Regions from separate parts of the Homo sapiens genome. Here region 2 is linked to region 1. A link means that fine-mapping ties the variant in region 1 to the expression of a gene that starts in the linked region. Tissue or cell type: whole blood. Region 1 holds a variant in brackets; the other region holds the start of a gene. All regions are shown on one strand. Distances are from middle to middle.

Region 1 (8,184 bases):
AATGAGTGTATCCCCCACCTTCAATATCCGTTCACCCTCTGTATCTGCTCAGGTTCCTCATCATCCAGGGTAAGGCTCCAGTGCCATCCATGCTGTCCACACTCCAGTTCCATCCATCCCGTCCACACCCCAGTTCCATCCATCCCATCCACACCCCAGTGCAATCCATCCTGTCCACACTCCAGTTCCATCCATTCGTCCACATTCCAGTTCCATCCATCCCATCTGCACTCCAGTTCCATCCATTCCGTCCACACTCCAGTGCAATCCATCCCTTCCACAATCCAGTTCTGTCCATTCCGTCCACACCCCAGTGCAATCCATCCCGCCCACACTCCAGTTCCATCCCTTCGTCCACATTCCAGTTCCATCCTTCTCGTCCACACTCCAGTTCCATCCATCTCGTCCACACTCCAGTTCCATCCATCCCATCCACACCCCAGTGCAATCCATCCCGTCCACACCCCAGTTCCATCCATCCCATACACACCCCAGTGCCATCCATCCCGTCCATACTACAGTACCAGGCATCCTGTCCACCCTTCAGTGCCATCCATTCCATCCCCGTGCCTCCCCTGGCCACAGATGAGGGCTTTTCCCAGCACTTTTTCCCTCCATGGTCACAAGCTGCTGCTTTTTTCCTGAAAGAAAAACAATCCTAAATTTTGGGTTAATCATCTCCTTTTTTTTTTTTTACACAAAATTGTTTGACACCTGTAACTCCTATCCCTAAATAATATATTATTTACATTTGGCTTGTTTTGAACTTCATATAAATGAAATCATACTGAGTGTATTTTTCTATGACTTGTTTTTCCCCCAAATAACACTAACACATTTTTGAGAATCATCAATGTTTGATATTTGTAGCTAAAATACATTAAATTTTACTTCAATATTATATTTTATGGAGGTGCTATACATGACTCTGTAGAGACCAAGGGAAAACTTATCCTTTGTCCTCTGAAAGGACCCTGAAAATCAACTGGCAAAATGCAGAGTAGTAGGAAAAAACACCTACGAAATTTATTGTAATGTCCATAGCACAGGGGAATTGCAGGAGAATGATTACTCAGAAGGTGATGCACCTTCCTCCATAGATGAAAGAGAGAGGGAAGATAGATGATTTTTAGGGAGATTCAATGGGCTTGGAGAGCATACACCGGTCTTGAACAAAGTCTGTTGGGCCCCAGATCAGGTGTGTTGACAAAAGTCAGTCTTTCTGTAACATGAGTCAAGGTCATGAACACTCAGGCTGTTGTGTTTCCCTTTGGCAGGTCCTGTTTGTAGGTAGATAAGGGAACTTCAGGCAACAGCCTCATCCTGTGCTTCAGGAGAGACAGAAGATCCTGGGAGTCGGGAGGAAAGTCAGAGAGACCTTGAGGCTGCTTCATGTCAGAGCAAGCGCCGTGTTTCCGGGAAACAACTTATTCTTTCTGCTGTTGCTGGGTGTGGACATTGATTTCAGCTTTTTTGGTCCCATGAAACACACTGCTGTGTACATTCTTGTACATGTCTCTAGTTGCACATACGAGATCTTCTAGAGTATAGACTAACAGGTGGAAATGCTGGATTATAGGACACGAATGTGTCCAGTTGCACCAGCTAATGCCCGAATGACATTTTTGTACTGAACTTTCTTTTCTTTTTCTTTCTGGTATGTGGAATGTTTGCACTTTCTTGGTACAAATCTACTGTCAATCATGTGTTTTGCAATTATTCTGTCCCCCTTTGCAACATACTTTTTTCAGTTTCCCCACGGTTGCAGAACAGTGTTTCTCAATTTTAATGTAGTTAAAATCATCAGTGTATTGTGTCCTAGTTTGTACTTCTTGTGTCTTGTTTAAGAAATCTCTCCCCATCCCACAGGCATTAAAATATTTTCCTGTATTGACTTACAAAACTTGTGACTTTATCTTTCACATCTTAGCCTTTAATCCAAGTTGAATTAATTTTTGTATATGGTGGAAATTGGGATCAAATTTCATTTTTTACACTGAGAATAACCAGCACCATTTATTCAAACATCTAAGTGACAATTCTACTTCTTTCTTTTATTAAGCTATGGTACACAATTCTGTTTCCAGTCTCAATCTGTCCTATTTTATTTTATTTTATTTTATTTTATTTTATTTTATTTTATATTTTATTTTTGAGACAGAGTCTCCCTCTGTCACCTAGGCTGGAGTGCAGTGGTGCGATCTTGGCTCACTGCAGCCTCTGCCTCCCAGGTTCAAGCGATTCTCCTGCCTCAGCCTTCTGAGTAGCTGGGATTACAGGCATGCACCACCACTCCCAGCTAATTTTTGTATTTTTAGTAGAGACAGGGTTTCTCCATGTTGGCCAGGCTGGTCTCGAACTCCTGACCTGAGGTGATCCAGCTGCCTTGGCCTCCCAAAGTGCTGGGATTACAGGCGTGAGCTACCACGCCTGACTTCTGTCCCATTTTAAATGCAGTAGTTAGTTCAATGCTTCTTATCAAAAAAGAAAAATTAAAAATAAAGGAAGAAGAAAAAAAGGACCAAAGGAAAGGAGGAAAGGAGAGAGGGAGAGAAAAACAAAGAAAAAGAAAAGATGGGATTTTTACTAGAATTGAATTAATTTCCCTCTATTAGAATTTTACTGATTTTCTCATTTATCTTGAAGGGAGTCAATGTCTTTAAAAAAATTATATATATATATATATATATATATATATATATATATATATATATGGCCAGGCGCAGCGGCTCACGCCTGTAATCCCAGCATTTTGGGAGGCTGAGGCAGTCAGATCACCTGAGGTCAGGGGTTTGAGACCAGCCTGGCCAACACAGTGAAACCCCATCTCTACTAAAAACACAATCAGGCAGACGTGGTGGTGGGCACCTGTAATCCCAGCTACTCGGGAAGCTGAGGCAGGAGAGTTGCTTGAAGCCAGGAGGCAGAGGTTGCAGTGAGCTGAGATCATGCCATTGCACTCCAGCCTGGGAAACAGAGCAAGACTCCGTCTCAAAATAAAATAAAATAAAATAAAAATAAATGTGCAGTTCACACATAGACTACATCTCTACAAAATGTCAGGCCTTATTTAATTTTGTCTGAGACTTTTGTGATTTTCCACAAAAATGTGTTCTATACTTTGTCTTTGATTGATTACTTGCACTTTACGTTTTTTGACCTTATTGTAAATATTATATCTTTTATTATTCAAATGTTGAATGTTATCAGGTAATTTAAGTGAATCCATTCGGGAAATCATATGATTTTGCTCCTTTAATTTCTTACTATGGAGAAATACATAAACTGATTTCTATTGTTAAGCCGCCCTCTCATTCCTGGGGTAAACTCAACTCGGTGGCAAGAGAGATTTCTTTCTCCATGTTGTTGCAATCCTTTTGCTATTACTGAGATCTGTGTGTCTGTATTTATGGATGAGATTGTCCCTTTTATACCTTTTTCATAATGGAAGTGTCTTCTTTGACATTAATGCTATTCTACTATTGTATCAGTCTGTTTTCACACTGCTGAAAAAGACATACCCGAGACTGGGTAATTTATAAACAAAAAGAGGTTTCACATGTTCTCACTCATAAGTGGGAGTTGAACAGTGAGAACATAGGGACACAGGGAGGGGGGAACATCACACACTGGGGCCTGTTGGGGGACAAGGGGAGGGAGAGCATTAGGAGAAATAC[G/A]TAATACATGTGGGGCTTAAAACCTAGATGATGGGCTGATGGGTACAGCAAACCACCATGGCACGTGTATGCCTATGTAACAAACCTGCACATTCTGCACATGTATCCCAGGACTTAAAGTACCATAAAAAATAATAAAATAAAACAAAAAGAAAAAGGGATTTAATGGACTCGCAGTTCCATGCGGCTAGGGAGGCCTCACAATCATGCAGAAGGTGAAAGGCACATCTTACATGGTGGCAGGCAAGACAGAATGAGAAGCAAGTGAAAGGGCTTTCCCCTTATAAAACCATCAGACCTCATGAAACTTACTCAATGAGAACAGCATGGGGGAAATGGCCCCTATGATTCAATTATCTCCCACCAGGTCCCTCCCACAACACGTGGAAACTGTGGGACTACAATTCAACATGAGATGTGGGTGAGGACACAGCCAAACCAGATCAACTCTCTAGGTGCCTTAGTCCCTTAAAATGAGCTGGGAACAGTCACTGTGCATAGGATGACACGTGTGTCTTTTGTTCCATAAATGTTTGGTCAAACTTGCCTTTTAAAAAGCTGAGTCTTGTGCTTTCTTTATGAAAAGAATTTTTATCTCTGATTCAATTTCATCAATGGAGAATTGACCCATTACTATTATTTTTTTCACCTCTGCTTCAGTCAGATCTGTTGTCTTTCCTGTGATTTATCTATTCAACCTAATTTTAAATGTTATTCATGTGAAATGATTCACATTATTGTGTTATCTTTTTAATTTTGGCTGCTTCTAAAGCTATGACCCTTTTCATTCCTAAAAATGTGTACTGTGGGCTGGGCGTGGTGGCTCACACCTATAATCCCAGCACTTTGGGAGGCTGAAGCGGGTGGATCACCTGAGGACAGGAGTTCGAGACCAGCCTTGCCAACATGGCAAAACCCCATCTCTATTAAAAATACAAAAAAAAATAATTAGCCAGGCGTGGTGGTGGGCGTCTGTAATAATCCCAGCTACTCCAGAGGCTGAGGCAGCAGAATTGCTTGAACCTGGGAGGCAGAGGTTGCAGTGATCTGAGATCGCACCACTGCACACCAGCCTGGGCAACAGAGCGAGACTCAAAAAAAAAAATAGTCTGTACTGTGGTTTAGCCTTGTTTCCTTGCCCAGTCTTCATGGGAATTTGTAATTCCATCGCTCTTCTCAAAGAGCCACCACGCAACTCAGTTGGTCTTCATTTGCAAGTTCATTGATTTCTATCTTATTTTCTTCATATTACTTTGATTTTCATTCAATTCTATTTCTTTATTTATACACTACTTTTTTGGTTATTAATATTTTAAGTAAATATCAACTTATTTAATTATATGATATTAAATTATTCTGTAGAAAAACATGCTCTTTCTTTCCATTTATTCCGACCATTGTTATTTTATAAAGTTTGTTGGCTGGTACTTTTATGTATTTTTGAATTAAAATGCAGTAGAATGGATTTTAGAACATGTATGTACGGTTATGAGTCTTAAGCAACCAGACCATCAGGATGCAGGGAAGCCCTTCCGTCGCCACGAACGTCTCCCTGACATCACCCTTCATAGTTACGCCCTCCTCGCTCCCTAATCCATTCTCGCCACCATCATCATCCTTCTCAAGAGTGTCATACAAAGAGAAGTTTAGGATATGTAAGCTTTCAAGGCTGGTTTCTTTCACTCAGCATAATTCTTTTGAATTATTCCAAGTCGTTGTCTGTATCGATATCGCACCTGTCATTCCAGCTGAGTGGCATGCATTGCATGATGCCAGTGTGTGGGTTCCACCGCGTTCCATCAGGGTATCCCTGAGTATGGATTACAGTTCATCAATTCCCTTGGTGACAGGCATTTGGATTGTTGCCGGTATCGGGCTATGGATAGAGCTTCCATAAGCATTATGCACATTTTTATATGAATATGCATTTCATCTCTTTTGGATAAACACTCGAAAGAGGTATCGAGGGGCACATGTCTGTTTAACTTTCTAAGAAACTGCAAACTGATTTTTACTAGGTTGGTGAAAAAGTAATTGTGGTTTTTGCATTAAAAGTACTTTTAATGGCAACATTTCATTTTATAAAATAAAAATAATCTGAACAAAAAGAAAGGAAGAAAGAAAGAAAGAAAGAAAGAAGAAAAAGAAAGAAAGAAAGAAAGAAAGAAAGAAAGAAAGAAAGAAAGAAAGAAAGAAAGAAAGAAAGAAAGAAAGAGGGAGGGAGGAAGGAAGGAAGGAAGGAAAGAAGGCTTTTTTTTTTTTTTTTTTTTTTTTTTTTTTTTTTTTTTTTGAGACAGAGACTCGCCCTGTCGCCCAGGCTGGAGTGCTACGGCGCAATCTTGGCTCACTGCAACCTCCGCTTCCCGGGTTCAAGCAATTCTCTGCCTCAGCCTCCCAAGTAGCTGGGATTACAGGTGCCCACCACCATGCCTAGCTAGTTTTTGTATTTTTAGTAGAGATGGGGTTTCACCAACTTGGCCAGGCTGGTCTTGAACTCCTGACCTTGTGATCTGCCCACCTCAGCCTCCCAAAGTGCTAGATTACAGGTGTGAGCCACCGCACCCTGTGGAAGGAAGGACCTTTAATGGCAAAAACCGCAATTACTTTTGCACAGCCTAACCACATGGCTATCCCATGTCGCCCTCTCAGCAGCCCCACATGGTGATTCTAGGCATATCCTTGAGCACTGAGAACCAGTGGTTTCCATGTTAGCCGTGCGCACCACGCGCTGTGGTACCTCAACCTGGCTTAACTAGCACTTACCTAATGCCCAATTATGTCGAACGTCTTGTCAGGTGCTTTTGTGCCACCTGCATACCTGCTTTGCTGAAGTTTCTGGTCAAGTGTTTTGCCCATTTTTAAATTGTGTTGTTTGTTTTCTTACTGTTGAGCTTCCAGCTTTTTTTATGTATTCTGGACACAAGTATTTGTCAGATATGTGGTTTGCAAATATCTTCTCCCGGTCTGTAACTTGTCTTTTCACCCACTTAACTGCATCTTTGAAAAAGCAATAGCTATTAATATTGATAATTTTCCATTTTTTCTTATTTTTATTTGTATTTATTATACATATATATTTGAGACAGAGTCTCGCTCTGTCACCATGTTGGAGTGCAGTGGCATGATCTTGGCTCACTGTAACTTCTGCATCCCGGGTTCAAGTGATTCTCCTGCCTCAGCCTTACGAGTAGCTGGGATTACAGTTGAGTGCCACCACGCCCGGCTAATTCTTGTATTTTTAGTAGAGACGGGGTTTCACCATGTTGTCCAGGATGGTCTCAATCTCTTGACCTTGGGATCTGCCCGTCTCAGCCTCCCAAAGTCCTGGGATTACAGGCGTGAGCCACAACACCTGGCCTCCATTGTTCATTTATTGACTTTTAGGAATCACGCTTTTGGTGCCGAGTCTAAGTACTTTTTGTTTAACCTGGTCACAAAACTTTTCTCCCATATTTTATTTTAAAAATGTTAGTTTTACTTTTCACATTTAGGTCTACGGTGTATTTGGGGTTAACTTAGGCAGAAGGTGTGAAGCTTAGATCAGAGTTTACTTTTTGGTAAATGAACATCCAATTGTCCCAACATCTTTTGTTGAAAGACTATTATTTTCCATCGAATGCCTTTGTGCCATTGTTATCGATTGGTCACATCTCTGTCGATCTATTTCTGGGCTCTCTATTCTGTTCCATTGATCTACATGTTTATCTCTTCACCAATATGACACAATCTTCATGACTGAAGCCCAAAGCAAGTCTTAATAATAAGGTCGTACCATTCCTCCTAATTCATTTTTTTGTTCAAAATTGTTTAGCCTATTCTACTTGGGTTTTTTTTTTCCTATGTAAATTTTAGAACCAGCTTCCCTATGTCTACAAAAAAAATTTTTGCTGGAATTTTAATGACTTAATTTATATCTGTGGATAAGTTAAGGGGAAACTGACATTTTCTTATACTGAATTTTTCAACTTATTAACACAGTATATCTCTTCATTTATGAGGTCTTCTTTGATTATTTTTATCTGTATTTTCTAATTCTTACCACAAAGATTCTGTATGTTTCATTAGATTGATTCCTAAGAATCTCCTTTTGAGCTATTGTAAATGGCATTGTTTCATTAATTTCAGACTTCAGTTGTTCATTGCTGGTATATAGAAACATAACTTACTCTTATTCTTGTTATTTTCCTTCCACTTGATTTTGGTTTGTTTTCTCTCATCTGTTTCTCATTTCTTAAAGTTAAAGCTTGTGTCATTGATTTTAGACCCTTTTCCTTCCTACCGTGAGTGAAGAACACTTTACATAGAGAAAACATACTCTATGTTCCTTCCTGGCACCACTTTAGCTATGTTCTATACATTTGGATATCACAAATTTTCATTTTTTTTTAGGTCAGGATTTTGTTTTGTTTTGTTTTTTTGAGATGGAGTCTCGCTCTGTCACCCAGGCTGGAGTGCAGTGGTGCAATCTCAGCTCTCTGCAACCTCCACCTCCCAGGCTCAAACGACT
Region 2 (8,184 bases), 75 kb before region 1:
GTTTGAAAACCTCACTGCAAAGACACAATAAGCTACGTATACATAGTGGTATACATATGCACGCACATACATGCACGTCCACAATCCATGTTCCTATGCACCTGTTCCTGCCCATGCAGGTTCATGCACACATATTCCCTGCAAATGTTTGTCAGGCACCTGCCAGGTGCCTCATGCTGTTCCAGGTGCTGGGATTGAGCCATGAACACCTGATACAGACAATGTCCCTATTCTTACAGATCTCGTATTCTAGGTGTCCCTGTTCTTACAGATCTCATATTCTAGAGACTAGAGATGGAGAGATGGTGACAAATGAGCAAACACATGTATACTACATTAGGAGAATGTGTGAGTCCATTCTCACACTGCTAATAAAGACATACCCGAGACTGGGTAATTTATGGAGGAAAGACGTTTGATTGACTCACAGTTCAGCATGGCTGGAGGGGTCTCAGGAAACTTCCAATCATGGCAGAAGGGGAAGCAAACACATCCTTCTTCATGTGGCGGCAGCGAGGAGAAGTGCCGAGAAAAAGGGGGAAAAGCCCCTTATAAAACCATCAGATCTCACGAGAACTCACTAACACGAGAACCGCAGCATCTGGGTAACCACCCCCATGATTCAATTATCTCCCACGGGGTACCTCGAACAATACGTGGGGATTTATGGGAACTACAATTCAAGATGAGATTTGGGTGGGGACGCCAGCAAACCATATCAGAGGGCTAAGTGCTGAGAAGGAGGGAGGGAGGAGAGCAGATGTGGGCATACAGATGTGAGAGGCATACCTTAACCAAGTGTCAAGAGAAGGCCTGCCGCATCAGAGCTTTCAGTCAGAGCCCTCCAGTAGGAGAGTGAATTCTGTGCACAGCTAGGAAACATCTCAGCGGCAGAGACAGGGAGCACGGGGTCCTGTCCAGATGTCCACACTGCACGGATGCGCACACACGGTGAACAAGGGTCTGTGCATGCTCACACAGCGAACCAGCACATCTACCCAGATGCGCACATCTGTGCATGTACACTGGGCACAGGACTCTGCATCCAGATACAAGCGTGTGCACAGAGACGCACAGGAGGCAGATGCACGTGCAGAGGATGAGAACCTGAGCCCACGGACCAGGCCAGCCCAGCCTCCGTGTTGGGCAGCAGCCCCCACGTCCTCAGGCGCTGCTGGGCAGTAACAGAGGCACCAGGTAAATCTTTATCTGGTGGAAAGGCAGCATCTCATTTGACCTTTGAAAAAACGAAACATTCCAAGCCCAGGGAAAAGTGAATAATCTATAAAACAGTGACTCCCTACCACTCAGATTTAGTCATTTTTGAAATATTTGCTTTAAATATTTTCCTAAGAAATAAAACCTTGCAAATGTAGTTGAAGGACTCACCTCATATCCCTGAAGGCTGCCATGGTCTCCACCTGGTGCCCCAGACCCTCTGAGATTTTCCAAAAGTTCACGTGTAGCCGGCCTCCCTCCCTTTCCTTTTCCCAAATTCTAACACATGTGTGTGTTCGTAAGCCAGGCGGAGTTAGATTTTCTGTGTTTTACTAAACAGACAAATCATGTTGCAGGTTTCATTGTACACCTTGCTTTAACAAATGTGTCTTTGATATTGATCCAAATTGTTACACAGAGATGCAGCCCATTCATTTTAACTTCTTTGTAACTTTCCATCGGAGGGATAAGCTACATCCATTCTGGGTTTCTGTTTTCTTTATGACAACCAATTCTTCTTTCGGCACTTGGCTTGATACACGTGAGTGAGATGTTGTCAACTCTTCTCCAAAATGTCCTTGCACATTTACAATCTCATCTCCTGCAGGCTCCTGCGGTTTCCCTGCTCCGTCAACAACGGGTATTGTGGAACTTTGTACTTTTAGAAATCCCATGGATACAATGCGGCATCTCATTACAGTTTTAATTTTCTTGATTAACAGTGTGGGGGAACATATTTTCTGTGCTTGTTAACTAGCTCTTCAAGCTCCCTGGTTTATAATGATCTGTCCTTGTCCTTCACTCAGGCTCCTGTAGAGGAGACGAAATCATTTTTCTTAATGATTCATAGCAATGCTGTGTATGTTTTGAATATGAGTTTTTGTTTTTCATATGTGTCACAAATATCTTCTGGATCTGTGGCTTTCATTTTCCTCAGAACATGCTCTGTGATACAGGAGATTTATTTTTCATGTGGTCGTTTTAAAATTGATTTTTGGCCCAGCACGGTGGCTCACGCCTGTAATCCCAGCACTTTGGGAGACCGAGGCAGGCGGATCACCTGAGGTCAGGGGTTCAAGACCAGCCTGGTCAACACGGTGAAACTGCGTCTCTACTAAAAATATAAAAATTAGCCAGTCGTGGTGGCGGGCGCCTATAATCCCAGCTACTCGGGAGACTGAGGCAGGAGAATCGCTTGAACCCGGGAGGCGGAGGTTGCAATGAGCCGAGATCAAGCCATTGCACTCTAACCTGGACGACAGAGTGGGATTCCATCTCAATCAATCAATCAATCAATTTTTACTTTTCGGATTGTGTATAAGAAACTCTTTCTGTTCTTAGGTCGTAAAGACCGTCTCCATCGCTTCTTCCGTTCGTGCGGTGGCCTCTCCTCTCACCATGGTGGCCTGGAGGCACCCAGATTTCTCTGGCCACGCGGCGCTCCAAGTCAGGAGTCAGCGCACAAGCCACGCGCGGACACCAGAACAGCCTGGAGGAAAAGCAGCCTCGTTCTGTTACCTTCTGCTGGTTACCCAGAGCCCGGTCCCTGCAGCCTGTGGGGAGAGACACAGACCCCCACTCTGCATCCGGGCGGAGTCACCCAGCGTTTACCCGCGTGTATTTCAAACTGCCGCAAGGACTACGTTTACTTTTCTCGCCCTGCTTCCGTGTTCTGCCATTTTTGAGGTCTCCACCACGGTCCCCTGGCCCCGGCCTAGACCCGGGCCTTTCCCCAGGGGTCCTGCTCCTCCGTGGCCCTGGACCGCTTGGCCCCTGTGCTCCTCTTTCCCTGGCTCCAGGATGCAGCCAGCTTCTCTTCAAGAAACTCAACCCCGGCTTGTGTTACCCCGAGGGTGTTTCCAGGCGTGCGAGGGGTGTGAGGGGTGGGACTGCACAGCGCGTCCCAGCCTCGGTCCCGGGCCCGGCCCCGGCAGACTCTGGAGAAGCCCAGGAGCGCGTGTCCCCGCCGGCCCCGCTCAGCCTGACCTGCTTTTCCCCACAGAGGTGCCGGGGTTCGGTGCAGTCTGGCCGTGTCCTCCTCTTCTCGCGGTTTCAGATTCTTCTTGCGTGACATTTTATCACACAAGACCGTGTTCGGGGATGGGGTGTTCTGAGCACGCCCTTACCGAGCCAGGCTCACCCAGTTCCCCATCTAGAGCTCCCTGCTGGCATCTCTCACCTGGGACCCCAGCCTGCAAGACTCCGACACCCACGCCCTTAGGGTGATGTGGCCGCGCCCAGCCTGCGCTCAGCACCACGGGAGGGAGGGCGGCAGGCGGAAGCCCCGGCCATCTTGGGAAGGGCCTTTTGGGACCGTGTGTTCCGCTGAGAACCACAGACCCATGCTTCAGACGCTACAGATTTCTCTCTCAAATGCCTGGATTCAAAATATAAAAGTGTGTTTGAGCAAACAGCAAAATATTTGGGAAATTCTCCCAGCGAGGCTTCTAATGACCCCGTAGGAAAAGCCAGGCTGCTCCCTGCTGCGCCTCCAGCGAACTTCCCACCGGGCAGGACTCTGGGAAGAAGAGCAAAGGGTTCTATTTTGCGTAGAATTTAAATAAAATTGCTTCACAGACGGGAAACGTCAAGCAAGCAGCACTCTGAGCCCATGCGTGCTTTTAATGCCTGAATGACATCGCAATTCAGTCTGAGTTCCCGCCTGGGCTCAGGGCCTTCTGAACTGCCGGGGGCTGTGAAATGGTTTATAATCAGAAGAGAAGCAGTGAGAGTTTAGATCCAAGATCCAAGGAAGTGTTTTCAGACTCAGTGTTAGCACATTTGTGTCTATACCAGTCCAGGCAGGAGGCTGAGGCAGAAGAATCGCTTGAACCCAGAAGGCAGAGGTTGCAGTGAGCCGAGATCGTGCCACTGCACTCCAGCCTGGGCAACAGAGCGAGACTCCATCTCAAAAAAAAAAAAAAAAAAAAAAAAACCACCATCAGATCTCGTGAGAAAGTACTGTCAGAATAGCCTGGGGGAAAACCACCCCCATGATTTAGTTACCTCCCACTGGCTCCCTCCCATGACACATGGGGATTATGGGAGCTACAATTCAAGATGAGATTTGGGTGAGGACACGGCCAAACCATATCAGGCTTCCACCCTCATAAACAGATTAATGTCATTATCGAGAGAGTGGGTTTGTTACCTCAAGAGTGGGGTTTCTAAAGTGAGCCTGGCCTCTCCTGCTCGGACTCAGGCCCTGGCTCCTGCCCTCCATCCTTCTCCCATGGGATGACCTTTGCCAGATGCCAGCACCATTGTCCTGGACTTTGTAGTCTCCAGAACTGCGAATGAAATAAATCTCATTTCTTTATAAATTACCCAGCCGGTGGCATTTCATTACAGCAGCAGAAAACAGAATAAGACAGTGGTCCTCTCTGTTATTTCTTGGTGTCTGTTTTTATGAATTTAAGGACATAATTATAGATTTTCTATTCATTAGCTTCTTTAGGTTTATTCTGTTATTCTCTGATGTTTTAAGTCAAGCTTTATTTTAAAGTTTTTCTTACTTCCTACATATGTTAAAGGTGACACATTTTCATGTAAATGAGGGATTTCTGCTAACCGTAGCTTACGGGAACAGAGCCACACCTCTTCATTTTCATACTGCCTGTGTTCGCTTTCTGACCAATCCAGCAGAGAAGAGGAGATGCAACAGAGACTATCCCACAAAGCCAAATATATTTTTATTTTTGTTTGTAAAAAATATTAGTAATAATATTTTTAAATGGGAAATGATCATCATCTGCACTTGTGAAATGCCATGTGGTATTTGGATGTATGTGCAAAACATGGAGTGATTAATTAAAGCCAATTAATATATCCATTGATTCTCTTAGTTATTTTGAAATATACAACACATTATTGTTAACCAGAGTCACCTGCTTTGCAGTAGGTCTCAAGCATGCTACTACCTGCCCCTCCACAAGACAGTTTTGCTAGTCACCTGCTTTGCAATAGGCCTCAAGCACACTACTACCTGCCCCTCCACAGAGACAGTTTGCTGACCCTTCCTAGGTGAAGCATTCTCTGCATTCACTCCAGAAGTCTCAATATGCAGCATTTATGTGGTCATTGTGTTTCAAATATTTTCAAATTTTGATTGTAATCTTCCTTGATTTACGATTCCTTCAGAAATAGGTTTTTATGGTTCCATATTTATGGGGCTGTTTTTCTCATTATTTCTAATTTCGATATGTGGAGTTCAGAGAATGTAGTCCATAAATACTTATTTTTTTAGTAATTGTTGGAATTTTTCTAAATGTCTCATGAATGCTTGATTCTTAGGTTCACAGATTTGAAGCAGCTATTATAGAAAACTTATTAATTATCTTGACAAGAATCCTTCGCTACTAATTTTGGGTCTGTGTAGCCACTTTAGGATTGATAGTTGTGTCGAACACTCTCATCATGATTTTGTATTCGTGTTTTTCTCCTTGAGTTTTTATCCATTGCATCCATTTGAAATTATGTTAATATACTAAGTTTCACAATTATGCTATGACCCTGATAAATAATTTCGTTTCTCGTGATGCAGTGGCTCTCTTTATTCTTGATAATGTGGTTTGATTTAATATCTATTTGTCTGGTATAATCGGGCGATTCCAGCCTTGCTTGGGTTAGTGTTTTTCTCATACTTTCTGTATCTTGCTTTCATTCTTTCCATGTTATGTTCTTTTTGATATGTCTCTTGTCAACAATGCATGTTTTACATATGTGTAGACACCTGGGGAGGTAGATTTCCTATATTTTCTCTAATAAATTTCTTTACTTGCATTTCTTTTAGTTAACAATGTATTAAATTCAGTTATGCAACCTTACTTAGGGCTTTGTACTACCCGTACTTCTAAGACGTCGCTCTCTTGAGCTTTTTACTGGTTTAGGTAGTATACATCATTTCTATTCTTTAAGCAATTACACCTAAATTTCATAATATCTACACTAAACCTATCAACATCTAAATGTACCTAGTAACTTTAACTCCCTCTACAACTATACAAAACCTACACAACATGTTAACTCCAACAATCTCCTTCCCATTTTACAAGGTTTCTCTGTTGAGGTTTCATAGAGGGCCAATGAAAAACTCCATTCTGACCCGTGCTCAAGCTGAGCCAATTTAAAAATAAGACAAAATTAATGCTTATTAAAAGAAAGCTTGAAGGTAATTCCTGGAGAACTTGTGACACGTTTGGAAAAGGTTGAAGGACTGGAGCTGGGTGGGCTGGTGGCTTTCAGAAAAGATGTGGGACACGTAAAGTGAGACAGGGCCAGGGACAGGAGAGGAGTCTCCTGCTTCTCTGAAAGTCCTTCTCCGTTTCATCCATGTTGAGTAAGTGCCATCATGTCTGGGCACTCAGGACACAATGGTGAATGAGAGTGCCCCGGCCCTGTCTCCTGGAAGCTGGGGTTGATGGGGACCTCCCAACTGCAGGCCAGCGGTGCCCTGCCCTCTACTGAGCATAGGGACACGGGGTTCTGGTCTCCTTAGCACCCAGGCTGACCCCTCTACAGGAGCCTCTGTGATGAGGACCAGGGACGGCACCTGCATCACTCTCAAAGGGAAATTCATCTCACTCCCTCCATCCCTCCCTTCTCTCTCCTTCCCACCCTCCCTCTCTTCCTTCCTCTCTCTCTCTCTTCCTCCCTCTCTCTCTCTCTTCCTCCCTCTTCCTTCCTCCCTTCCTCTGCCCCCTCCACCCTACCCTCCCTCCCTCCCTTTCTTTCTCTCCATCTATTATGGACTGAATGATTGTGAATCCCCAGATCCCTCTGTTGAAGCCCTAATCGCAGTGTAACGCTATTTGTGGATGGGGCCTTTGGAAGGTGATGAGGTCATGAACCCTCACGAATAGGATTAGTGACCTTGGAATAAGAGACACAAGATAAATGATTCCCTTCTGCCACTGAGGACACAACGAGAAGGCGCCATCTCCAAGCCAGGAAGGGGGCCCTCAGCAGACACCGAGTCAGCACCGTGATGATCCTGGGCTTCCCAGACACCACACCTGAGAGAAATAAATGCCTAGTGTTTCAGCCCCCAGTCTATGGTAATTAGTGATTGCAGCTCAAACTAAGACACCCTTCGCCTTGACATAACCATAGCGACACTTTGGATAAAACTTCCTTCATTTTGGATGTGACTCTGGACACTTCCTGGTCTTCGTACACTGCAGACATGAAGTGTCATCCAGCGGCATGTGCTGGACTGGGGCACCCTTGGTGTTGCCTTCATACACTGCAGACATGAAGTGTCATCCAGCTGCATGTGCTGGGCTGGGGCACCCTTGGTGTTGTCTTCATACACTGCAGACATGAAGTGTCATCCAGCTGCATGTGCTGGGCTGGGGCACCCTTGGTGTTGTCTGCTGTCACACTGGGAGCCTGGACCCTGCGGGCAGGGCTCACAGAGGTTGCAGGGCCATCCTCTCGTGGAAAATGTCTCTAGACTGCTTTACTTTTTTGATCCTTAATAAAATAAAATACACTTTCTTAGCTCCCTATTCTTGCATACTTTTTCCTGGGGAACCCAAGGACCCAGCAGGTTAGAAACACAGGGTGGTCAGCTTGATGCTCCAGGAGGCAGCCTCCAGGGGGGCTGCTGTGGGCAGTTCCTCCACAGCTCACACTCTGCAGAAGCCGGGTGAGTGTCCCTCCTAAATACTCCGGAGCAGGGTGCTCCTGGCCCTGACCATGGCATCATGGCCCTAGGATTGGGTGAGTGCTCCTCGTCAACGCTCCAGAATAGGGCGCTCCTGCCCCTGACTATGGCATCATGGCCCTAGGATCAGCCTTTCACTCAATCTTGGACAACGAGTTTTTCTTCCAATGTGGTTTAGCCTTGGTGGTGAATGTTGTTGCTCCAGCAGCCAAAACTGAAGGTGCAAATGCAGGAACAGTCAGCCCCACCCTGCTGTGTGTGAGGATGATGCTGCCCTGTGCAGTGAAGAAAGCAGGGTG

What was found. PIP is the estimated chance that this variant, and not a neighbour inherited with it, causes the effect.
Region 2: it holds the start of NHIP, and the variant in region 1 is fine-mapped to the expression of NHIP in whole blood (INTERVAL, PIP 0.98).

What each region holds. Positions count from the first base shown.
Region 1 is chr22:49,123,542-49,131,725 of GRCh38, forward strand. No RefSeq gene overlaps it. Among named protein-coding and RNA genes, the nearest start is that of NHIP, 75 kb to the left of the region's middle. The variant G/A (reference allele first, on the strand shown) is at 3,678.
Region 2 is chr22:49,048,967-49,057,150 of GRCh38, forward strand. It overlaps NHIP (neuronal hypoxia inducible, placenta associated), which reads right to left and starts at 3,419. Exons shown (of 4, transcript NR_183584.1): 1 at 1,390-3,419; 2 at 790-1,237; 3 at 429-497. RefSeq lists an enhancer at 3,386-3,465.